Linked DNA regions of Homo sapiens. The protein of the gene in region 2 purifies or fractionates together with the protein of the main gene of each other region. This does not show direct contact. Each region holds a gene or a part of one and is shown on either strand. Other genes may lie near its edges. The genes, in order: SMC4, PRKCI and MRPS35.

Region 1 (3,500 bases), 9.8 Mb from region 2:
GCATCCCATATACTTCAGAAGCACAAATGTAATATAAATTTGACAATTTATAAATTATTTACTTCGTTGGGACAATATTACATTAGCTTCCTTTATTACTGAATTACGTACAGAGATGCTGTACAGAGAAAAAAATTATCCTTAGAAGGGTTAAAATGCAGTGTATTTTGATGAATCTTTGGATAAATGTAAAACTTTGATTATCCCAGGATGACGGTAAAAGATTAAGCAAAAGATAAACATAAGTACAATTTCCTGCAAATTGGTATCATCATCAAATTTAGTATTATATAGGGACATAACTTTTTATCCATTATTAACCAAACCAAGTCCCAGAATATGTAAGTCAATAAAACAGTTCAATTTGATTTTAAAAACACACAAAATCCTTTAATGCCACATTCTATAAATTCCAATCTTGTTTAGAAATATATCTGCAATTAATTTCCTCAACATTAATTTTTAAATAAGTTTAGGTTGAAGTATTGCAAATATACTGTGCCTGGTAACAAAAGATATTAAAAAAGGTTATCCTAGAATGATACTGATTTACCTTGTATACTATGAATGTCTAAAAGTAATAATTTTTAGAAACAATTGAAGAATAAAGACTAAAATGGAAACAGAGGCTAACATTTTATAAGTTTGTTATTAGGAACATCCAGTCACCCTAACAAAATTCCCTACTTATTTCAGTCATTTCTGCATCACAAAATAGTTTTGCTTTTATTATGCTTCGGTGATTCTGGATAGAACACAGGAAAAGAAGATACCCTCGAATCAAACAGGAACTTGACAAAGCCATGGTTTTACCCTAATTTTTTTTTTTTCCGAAAAATTCTGAATTTTGAGGACAGGGAAAAAAAGATAGGGGATTTTTCTTACCAAGCCATGCTGGTAGAATATACTTTTACTTAAAGAAAACAGGGTTTCTAATAAAAATCAGTTTGGCACAGGTACTTAATTTTTACATCTCTTTAAAAGGACTTGCTCTGTAACAGCTCTGATACTTAACAATGTAATATCAAAGTTTCGTTCTTTCAGTAGTAGTGGTTCCACCAAGTAAGTCATTTTCAACAAAACAAAAACCAACTTGAGTAAAGGTTAAGTTAACCATCCAAAGTGTTACAAAGATTAAATTAACTAGGTGCTTAGGTAAATCAAACACCAAGTGTACAGATTTTTTCATTTTTTGGTTATATATCAGAAGAGATAATAAGAACAAAAACAAAGGAAAAGGATAGATTAAAATATAATACATTTCATTTAAAATGTTACCTTAAAGGGAAATACAAACAATTGATAAAATAGTTGCTGTATCCCTGTCACACTAAAGCAGCACAGTAATATTGGTGTTTAATATATATTTCACTACGCCAATATTTACGTGCTGCTAGAGTGGAACAAGTATGTCAGTTCATCCAAACATAAAACGAACATCTGATGATGAAAACATAGTTTTGAATGAATTTCCTTAAATTTCTAGAGCAGCAAATAATGATTCGCATCTTGACTGTAGCATGTAAACCATGATGTGCTGCTACAGTACTTTAAGGCCTCAAAAATGTAGGATTCATCCAACCTAGCTTTATAGAAAAAAAAGTAACAAGAATAAGAGAATCTTTGAAGTCTTTAATAAACTTACCTGTAAAATTAAAAATCTATTATGGTCCAAGTCAATTCCATGGCTTCGAAGAAGATTTCCAACATCCTTAAATGTCTTTTTCTTTCCACTTATGTGATAGACAGAAGTATTATCTCTGCAGGCCGTTCTGGATACATAGAAATTACTGTTAGGAATGACTTCATAATCATCCCCTTCCTGTTTTGAGGAAAAACAAAACCAGAAAACAATTGTTGGTATTAAGTCATAGGCCTACTTCAAAATTCACTCATTTCATACTGAAACTAATTCTATGGATTAAAAACTTCAATTGAACATGCACACAAACTGCCAGTAGTTCTCATTAATAACCCAACTTAGCAAAGAATTGATACTTTTCCATGCTGTTTTGGTCCCTTTCTCAAAGATCACAAAAATCAAGAAGCCAAACCAACCAGCCAACGAAAAAACCCACCTCCAAACAAGCCTAAAAACGTTTATGATTGAGAAGACGTAGACAAGATTCCCACCATATCCAAAACCCACACAAATTATTAACATGTTGACAGATTAAAAAGCTGCAGCTTTTTAAAATGATGATTCAAAGAAAAAGGAAGGAAGGTAGTAACCGGGTGATACACTTTAGTTTTTTTGTGTGGGAGGGTAAAGAGTGTGCCGTTAATTTAAAGTAAAAAGAATCACAAAGAAATAACAACTAAATTCCCTTGATTTTCTTTTAAACAGATTTTTAAAAAAATCAATTGCAAATCTACTTTAACACTTTCCCTTAACCTTAAAAGTTCTGTCATACTGAAGCAAAGGCTTCTAAAATTTAGATAAATCAAATGTAATTAATATGCAATGGAATAAAATCTGATTTCCTGGCAATCTATTTTCCAACCCAACTTGTACAATAGAAAGCACAAAAGAAACCAAATTAAAATAGATGATTCTGTGTAATTAAAGCACTTTGTATTAAAAAAAGGAAAACGAATTCAAAAGACAAATCACCTCCCAATTTCATTATGTAATTAGTTTTCTATATTTTTAGGTTCCATCGAGTCATTTTTGAACAATCAATTTCCTACATTATTAAACAGAAGAGAAAAAGTCTCAACAGGTAAATAATCTAGACATTTTACCTCTAGTTGTCTCCATTTCTAGAAAACAAACATTAGCTTGTCCTTCCCCCATTTCTAAAGGACTTAATTACAGCAGTAGTCAAACTGAAGCAAAGCTCTTTCATATCACAGATACTCAGGGGCCACTAACATTAGAGTTAAAATGCACTGAAATAATGAAGATGGTAAAACCGGCTAACTGCTACATTTTCAAGTTTAGCTAATTTATTCTAAAGCAATCAAAATATAACTTTAAAAATGAACTGAATATTTATAGTAAAATAATGCCTATTTAGTACTCAGGACCCTAAAACTGCTCAATGCTTTTATTCCAAAAAGGATTACTATGAACTATTTATACTTCATTTCTTTAGCTAAAAAATAAGTATTTTAACAGGCACCACCACTCCCCCAAAATAAAATACGGTCAGAGATAATGAAACCAATGCTTTCCGCTGTAATTACATACAAATTTCTTAAAGCCAAAAATAAAATATGTAATGCATTTAAGTCCATTTTCCTTACTTGAACTTGCCAATAACAGTAAAAATCCCTTACCTTATCAATTATCTTTTGAAAATGAACTTCTACTGTACAACTCTGAATGTCCTTGTGTTCATCAGAATTATGTATTAATACTGAGAGTTTTTTAGATCTTATTTTTTGTGCTCGATAGCCAAACACAAAAAGCATAGAATCAATAACATTGGATTTGCCACTGCCATTTGGCCCGATAATACAGGAAAAGCGCTGCATTAAAAAAACAAAAACAAAAC
Region 2 (3,731 bases):
TATTGTGGGTTAGTAAGTCTCAATGTTATCTGAAAAATGGAGATAATCATATCTGCCTCTGAGTATTATCATGAAGACTAAATAAGTGCAGCTTGAGCCCAGGAAGTTGAGGCTGCAGTGAGCTGTGACTATGTCATTGCACTCTAGCCTGGGTGATGGAGGAAGACACTGACTCAAAAAATGAAAAATAAATGAAAATAAATGAGTGCAGCCAGGCAAGGTGGCTCATGCCATAATCCCAGCACTTTGAAAGGCCAATGTGGGAGGATCGCTTCGGTACAGGAGTTCGAGGCCTGCCTGGGCAACACAGGGAGACCTTGTCTCTACAAAAAAATTAAAAATTAGCCAGACATAGTGGTGTGTGCCTACAGTCCCAACTACTTGGGAGGCTGAGGTAGGAGGACTGCGTGAGCCTGGGCAGTTAAGGCTGCAGTGAGCTGTGATTACACCACTGTACTCAGCCTGGGTGACAGAGTAGAAATGTGCCTCAAAAAAAAAAAAAGTGCAAAATACTTATCATGGTTCTTTTTCTTTTGTTCCACTTTTTTCAGTTGAGTTTTTTTTGAGACAGAGTCTCGCTCTGTCACCCAGGTTGAAGTGCAGTGGCACAATTACAGGCGTGAGCCACCACACTCGGCCTCAGTAACATTTCTGAATAACACTAACTTTAATTCTTTAAAAGCTTTTTTCTTTAATTGACAGAAATTTTTCTATTATATTTCACTAAGATAAGAGATTATTACTATAATTCAATACTGTCTAGAAAATTCTAGCCTATGGCTAAAAATAAATAAGGCTGGGCGCAGTGGCTCACACCTGTAATCCTAGCACTTTGGGAGGCCAAGGTGGGTGGATTACCTGAGGTCAGGCGTTCGAGACCAGTCTGGCCAACATGGCGAATCCCCATCTCTACTAAAACTACAAAAATTAGCCAGGTGTGGTGGTGCACGCCTGTAATCCTAGCTACTCAGGAGGCTGAGGCAGGAGAATCACTTGAACTTGGGACGCGGAGGTTGCAGTGAGCCGAGATCACGCCACTACACTCCAGCCTGGGCGACAGAGTGAGACTCTGTCTCAAAAAACATAAAATAAATAATAAATAAATAAATAAGATATAGAAAAGAAGAGGCAAAATTGCTACTTGCAGATGACATTATCTAGCTTAAAAATTCTAAGACAGTTAAATTATTAGTAAGGTGGAAAGTTTAATTTAAACATACAAAAAGAAAACAGTATGTAATAGGTCTACAAGAAGACCCCATTCACAAAAGCACATGATTATAAAATATATAGGAATAGGCCGGGCACGGTGGCTCAAGCCTGTAATCTCAACACTCCGGGAGGCCGAGGCAGATGGATCACCTGAGGTAAGGAGTTCCAGACCAGCCTGGCCAACATGGTGAAACCCCATTTTCACTAAAAATACAAAAATTAGCCAGGCATGGTAGCGCCTTGCCTGTAATCCCAGCTACTTGAGAGACTGAGACTGGAGAATCGCTTGAACCTGGGAGGCGGAGGTTGCAGTGAGCCAAGATCACGCCACTGCGCTCCAGCCTGGGTGACAGTGCAAGGCTCCATCTCAAAAAAAAAAAAAACAAAAAAAAAAAATTAAATAATGAATCAAGCCATTCCATAACATATATCAAAGTTAACTATAATATTACAATAATTAAACCAATAGTGGTATGTGCAAAAATAGATCTCTCCCCTAAAATCAATGAAACAATAGAAAGTACCTACGCACATTGTGGGAAATTTAGTACATAACAGAGTTACCATTTCAAATCAGTGGTGAAAGGACAATCTGCCCAATAATGGTATTAGAATAAATTTTGGAGAAAAAAAAAGTTGTGTCAGTACCCTATAAATGACTAAACCCCAAAATACCAGATTCACTGAAAAGATAATCACTTTAAAAGTTTCATAATAAGCCAGGCGCAGTGGCTCACGCCTAAAATCCCAGCACTTCGGGAGGCCACAGCGGGTGAATCACTTGAGGTCACGAGTTTGGGACCAGCCTGGCCAACATGGCAAAACCCTGTCTCTACTAAAAATAAAAAATTAGCCGGACATGGTGGCGCATGCCTGTAATCCCAGCTACTTGGGAGGCTGAGGCAGGAGAATCACTTCAACCCAGGAGGCAGAGGCTGCAGTGAGCCAGGATCGTGCCACTGCACTCCAGCCTGGGCGACTGAGCAAGACCTTGTCTCAAAAAACAAACAAAAATTAGCCGGGTGTTGTGGCGTGCGCCTATAATCCCAGCTACTTAGGAGGCTGAGGCAGGAGGATTGTTAGAACCCAGGAGGCAAAGGTTGCAGTAAGACGAGATCACGCCACTGGGTTCTACCCTGGGCAACAAAGCAAGACTCTGTCTCAAAAAAAAAAAAAAAAAAGTTGCATAATAGAAGAAAAATAGAATATTTTTAGATGAAAAACACTTTTACCTAAGACAGTAAATCCAGAAACTATCAAGGAAATTTTTAAAAAGGACAGGTTTGATGACATAAAAACGAAAAACTCCAGACTAGCAACAGATTGGGGAAATGCTGGCAACTTTAACAAAATGTCAATGTCCTGTCAACAAATTAATAAGAAAAATAATACAATAGAAAATGGGTAAAATAGGAACAATCCAGAAGAAATACAAATGATCATTAATATATAAAAGATACTTGTAAAAATAAATTACCATTTTTTGCCAATCTGACAGTCAAAAATTTAAAAGACAGATAACATGCAATGGGAATATAAGGCAGAAGCTTCACTAGTCCTGTTGTTAAGAATGTAAATTAAGCTCTTTTGGGAAACAATATCATATTTCAAGATAGGCATATCTTTGACCATATTTACAAGAATATGTATTAAATATAAGGAGGTTCCTTCAACATTATTTGAAATAGTGAGTTGATGAAGACAACTTTAAATGTTCATCAATCCGAAAAAAGATTAAACATATTATGGTGGCTGGGCGCAATGGCTCATGCCTGTAATTTCTACACTTTGAGAGGCCGAGGCAGGAGAATCACTTGAGCACAGGAGCTTGAGACCAGCCCCGTCCCTACAAAACATATTAAAAAAAATTAGCTGAGCCTAGTGGCGTGAGCTAATCCTAGCTACTCAGGAGGCTGAGGTGGGAGGACTGCTTGAACCCAGAGTGGTTGAGGCTGCAGAGGGCCTAGATCATGCCACTGCACTCCAGCGTAGGCAACAGAATCAGACTCTGTCTCTTAAAACAACAACAACAACTGTAGAACACTGTATTACCAACTATAAAGAGGTCTGTCTACCCTGGAATGAAAAGATGACCACGATTTTTAAAATCAAGTTGCAGATGCATGTGTGGAAATATGAACTCATTTATTGGAAAAATAAAAGGGTATGTCTGTGTGTGTGTATGCACATACATATCTATACTTATAAATATACCGATATGATATAGAATATCCCTAACTGTTAACAATGGCTATCTCTAGAAAGTGGGAGTGAGACAGCCATAAAAAATAATGAAATCACGTCTTCTACACCAGCATGGATGGAACTGAAGGCCATTATCCCTAGTCAAAAAAATCAGAAACAAAAAGCCAGATACCACATATTCTCACTTATAAGTGAGAGCTAAACAAAGGGTACACATGGACATAAAGAGGGAATAGTAGACATTGGAGACTACAAAAGGTGGGAGGGGGGTGAGGGTTGAAAAATACCTATCGGGTACAGGTAATTTTCTGGGT
Region 3 (3,831 bases), on a different chromosome or scaffold from region 2:
GTAATCGACTTCCCAGGCTCAGGTGATTCTCCCACTTCAGCCTCTGGAGTAGCTGGAACTACAGGCATGGGCCACCACGTCTGGCTAATTTCTTGTATTTTCAATAGAGACGAGGTTCCGCCATGTTGCCCAGGCTGGTCTCAAACTCCTGGGCTCAAGGGATCCGCAGGCCTCGACCTCCCACAGTGCTGGGATTACAGGAATGAGCCCCCACACTCAGCCCCTTGGCAGGGCTTTTGATTTTCTTCTTCCAGTCTTCCCAATTCGTGTACATGGAATCATCATTCATCCAATTGCTCAGAACAAAAATGTAACAGGATTTTTTTGAGACTTGTCCTCAAGCCCCACATCAAATCCATCAGTAAATCCTATGAACTTTACCTTCAAAATATATCGCAAATACAACCACACCTCCTTCTCCACTATTACTTTAATCCAAGTCACCATCACCTCATTTGGATTACTGCAACAGCCTCCAAACAGATCTTTGGCTTCCACTCTTACCCCAGTAAAGCAGCCAGTGATCTTTTAAAAACGTAAATCACATTATATCAGTTCCCTGTTCCAAGCCTTTCAATATAAAACCCAAGCCAAAAATCCAAATGAAATGTCTACAAACTCTTGAGAGATCAGATTATTACTTAACTAACTCTCTGACGTCTTATACTACCACTCTCTCCTCTACTCACACTTAGCTCCTGCCACATTGTCCTTCTTCCCGTTCCTTGATCACACCCCTCAGATTGTTCTCAACTTTTGGCCTTTGCACTTATAGTTCCCCATACCCCAAAGGCTCTTTCCCCATATCTCTGCATGGCTTGGGGCCCTGTTCAAATGTCACTTCCTCAGAAAGATCTTTCCTGACCATCCTGTGGCCACTACTCCCCCCAAATCCATCATTCTCAATACTCTACTTTATTTTTCTTCAAAGCATTAAACCCTATCTGACATCTTATTTAGTTGTTTGGTTGTTTATACTATTGACTTCCCCACCTTGCCGTATCTCCGGTGAGTGTCTAGAACACTGCATGGTATACAATAGGAGTTAAGTATTCCAAGAATTTAAGAATGAAAATTTAAAAATAGACAATTATTAGACCTATGAAGAGCCAGTATGAAGGATTAATGTATTTATAGTTTATCTGAAAACAATGGGAAACCATTTGTAGATCTTGAACATGAGAGCAGCAAGACAAGATCTAAATTTTGAAAACCTCATTTGGCTGTTTTGAGAATTCAATGTAGGAGAGCAAGAGGGGAAACAGGAAACGGAAAAAAAACTTGTAGAAATGAGATGGTCACCTGAACTAGATAGTTGGTAGTATGAGGAGAGTAAATTAGAGATATAACAGGAAGTAGCACAGGTAGGATCCGCCTATTGATTAGACTCACGCCAGCTCCTCCTCAACGCTCCCGTCATTCTAGCCACACTTCTATCACAGCGCCTCTCACCCTACATAGCACTTCTCCGCTAATAAATCTGTATTTTCCACTAGAGTCCTCCGGGGTAAGCACGCTATCAAGCATCCCTACAATCTCTGTTAAATGGAGGTCATCAACGCCTGTTGAATGAAGGCCGCCCATTTGGTGGCCTGGAATTCAGAGCAGCAATTTGTCCTAGCACAGCCGTATGACTCTCTTAATGTTTGGGGAAATCCATGGTTCAACAGCGCCGATGCCCGATAAACAACACAGCACCAGTAACCTGTGCCAGGGGCTGTGGACGGGGGCAACACAGGAGCAGGTCACGGGGAAGGGGGATGTAAGCTTTCTGAGCAAACTCCCAGAGCACCCAGGGCAGAAACAGGCGGCTAGAAGCCGGGCAACGCGGGTGCAGAGCACAGACCCACGTCCATGGTTTTCCTACCAGACGGGCCTGGCAGCGGACGCACTGGCCTCCCCCGGGCGGCGCTGGCTCAGCCACCGCGGCACCCTTCATGAGGCCGGTATTCCGCTCTTGCACCTCCCCCAAAGCCCAGAGAAGACGAGACAGACACTCACGCAGGCTAGGTGTCGGGACCGGAGTGGCCGAGTAGACGGCAGTGGAGAATGCACGCAGAGTCCTTGCCCTCGACTGCAGAGACAGCCATGCTGGGAGCGCGGCGGCCGCCATGGCTGCGAGGACGGCAAGCCGGAGGGGACAAGCGGCGTTCAGTGTCAGGGGCGGGCCTGGGGCCGCTAAGCGCAGGCTCCCTGGGCTGGCACCGCCCTAGGCTGGAGAAAGAGGAAACACGTTGGTCTGCGCACTCAGAGCCGAGTCAAATGTGCAGGAAGATTCCCCCAAACTGAAAGAAGTAATGAAAAGAAAACAAAAAAAATCCTTAAAAATCGAGTGAATCAGTTCGTAGAGAATTGCAGATAAAGACCGTAGGGATAGGGGTTGCGGCTCACTGAAGGCGGGCGTGCTCTGGGTGGAACCTCAGTTGATCCGAGAGTCAGGCGGTCTACCCGAGGGACTCTTGTTATTTATAATTGTTGCTTTTCTACATTTACTTGGATTAAAGAAGTCTTCAACTAATGCCAGTAATATGCGCTAAGGGGAGAGAAGCAGTATCCCGAGCCAGAGTGCTTGGGTTTCAAACTTGACTTCACCACTTCTGGGATGTATGATCTCAGACAAGTTAGCATAGACAAATATTTGTGTACAGCGTTGGCATACAGTGAACACCGCGTGTACGTAGCCTATAACTTTTAGCTATATATGGTTAGCTTGTTGTTAGATCAGCTTAGAATTACAGAAAGTCAGAACTCATCAGGACCTAGAAAATAAACTTTTAATGAACACTCTTAAATTTTCTACGGTAGGATGAATTAACATACAAGCCTTAATAAAACAATTCTCGGCCGGACGCGGTGGCTCGCGCCTGTAATCCCAGCACTTTGGGATCCCGAGGCGGGTGGATCACCTGAGGTCAGGAGTTTGGGACCAGCCTGACCAACATGGAGAAACCTGGTCTCTACTAAAAATACAAAATTAGCCGGGTGTGGTGGCACATGCCTGTAATCCCAGCTACTCGAGAGAAGAATCGCATGAACCCGGGAGGCAGAGGTTGCGATGAGCCGAGATCGCGCCATTGCACTCCAGCCTGGGCAATAAAAGCAAAACTCCGCCTCAAAAATAAAATAAAATAAAATAAATTCTCTATTTTCTCTTTATTTTAAAAATTATTTTAATTAATTAATTAATTATTATTATTTTTGAGACAGAGTCTTGCTCTGTTGCTAGGCTGGAATGTGGTAGCAGGACCATGGCCCACTGCAGCCTTGACCTCCCAGGCTCAAGTGATCCTCCTACCTCAGCCTTTCAAGTAGCTGAGGCTACAGGCACGCACCACCACACCCAGCTAATTAAAAAAAAAATTGTTTTTCCAGAGATGAGGTCTCACAGTGTTGCCAGGGCTGGTCTCAAACTCTTGGGTTCAAGCGATCCTCCTGCCTTGGCCTCCCAAAAAAGTGATAGGACTACAGGCGTGAGCTACTGCACCTGGCCTATTTTTTCTATTTTTAAGTTTTTTGTAGAGTTGGGGGTCTTGCTATGTTGTCCAGGCTGGTCCCAAACTCTTGGCTTCATGTGATCCTCCTGCCTTGGCCTCCCAAAATGTCGGGATTACAGGCATGGGTCTGGCCTATTTCCCTATTTTGTCTCAAAGTGACAAAATTATAACAGTAAAAACAACTAAAAATAAACAAAACCGATTCTTGGTAAGCATACAACCAGTAGAGCAGAGGTATGCAGGTGTCCAAGAATATTCTAGCTGTGAACATTCAGTGCGCCATGGACATCAATCAGTAAGGTATGGGAGGGGGACAAATAGCATGAGATGGACAAGT

What was found.
Region 1: the proteins of PRKCI (region 2) and SMC4 fractionate together in Homo sapiens (co-fractionation; one large-scale study listed by BioGRID). This does not show direct contact.
Region 3: the proteins of PRKCI (region 2) and MRPS35 purify together in Homo sapiens (affinity purification with mass spectrometry; one large-scale study listed by BioGRID and IntAct). This does not show direct contact.

What each region holds. Positions count from the first base shown.
Region 1 is NC_000003.12:160,402,650-160,406,149, reverse strand, and holds part of SMC4 (structural maintenance of chromosomes protein 4), read right to left. Parts: intron 3,475-3,500; coding exon 3,283-3,474; intron 1,823-3,282; coding exon 1,646-1,822; intron 1,563-1,645; exon of another isoform or gene 1,465-1,562; intron 1,406-1,464; exon of another isoform or gene 1,325-1,405; intron 1-1,324. UniProt on the Homo sapiens protein: Central component of the condensin complex, a complex required for conversion of interphase chromatin into mitotic-like condense chromosomes.
Region 2 is NC_000003.12:170,228,828-170,232,558, reverse strand, and holds part of PRKCI (protein kinase C iota type), read right to left. Parts: intron 1-3,731.
Region 3 is NC_000012.12:27,709,126-27,712,956, reverse strand, and holds the start of MRPS35 (small ribosomal subunit protein mS35 isoform 1 precursor), read right to left. Parts: upstream 2,126-3,831; 5' UTR 2,114-2,125; coding exon 2,002-2,113; intron 1-2,001.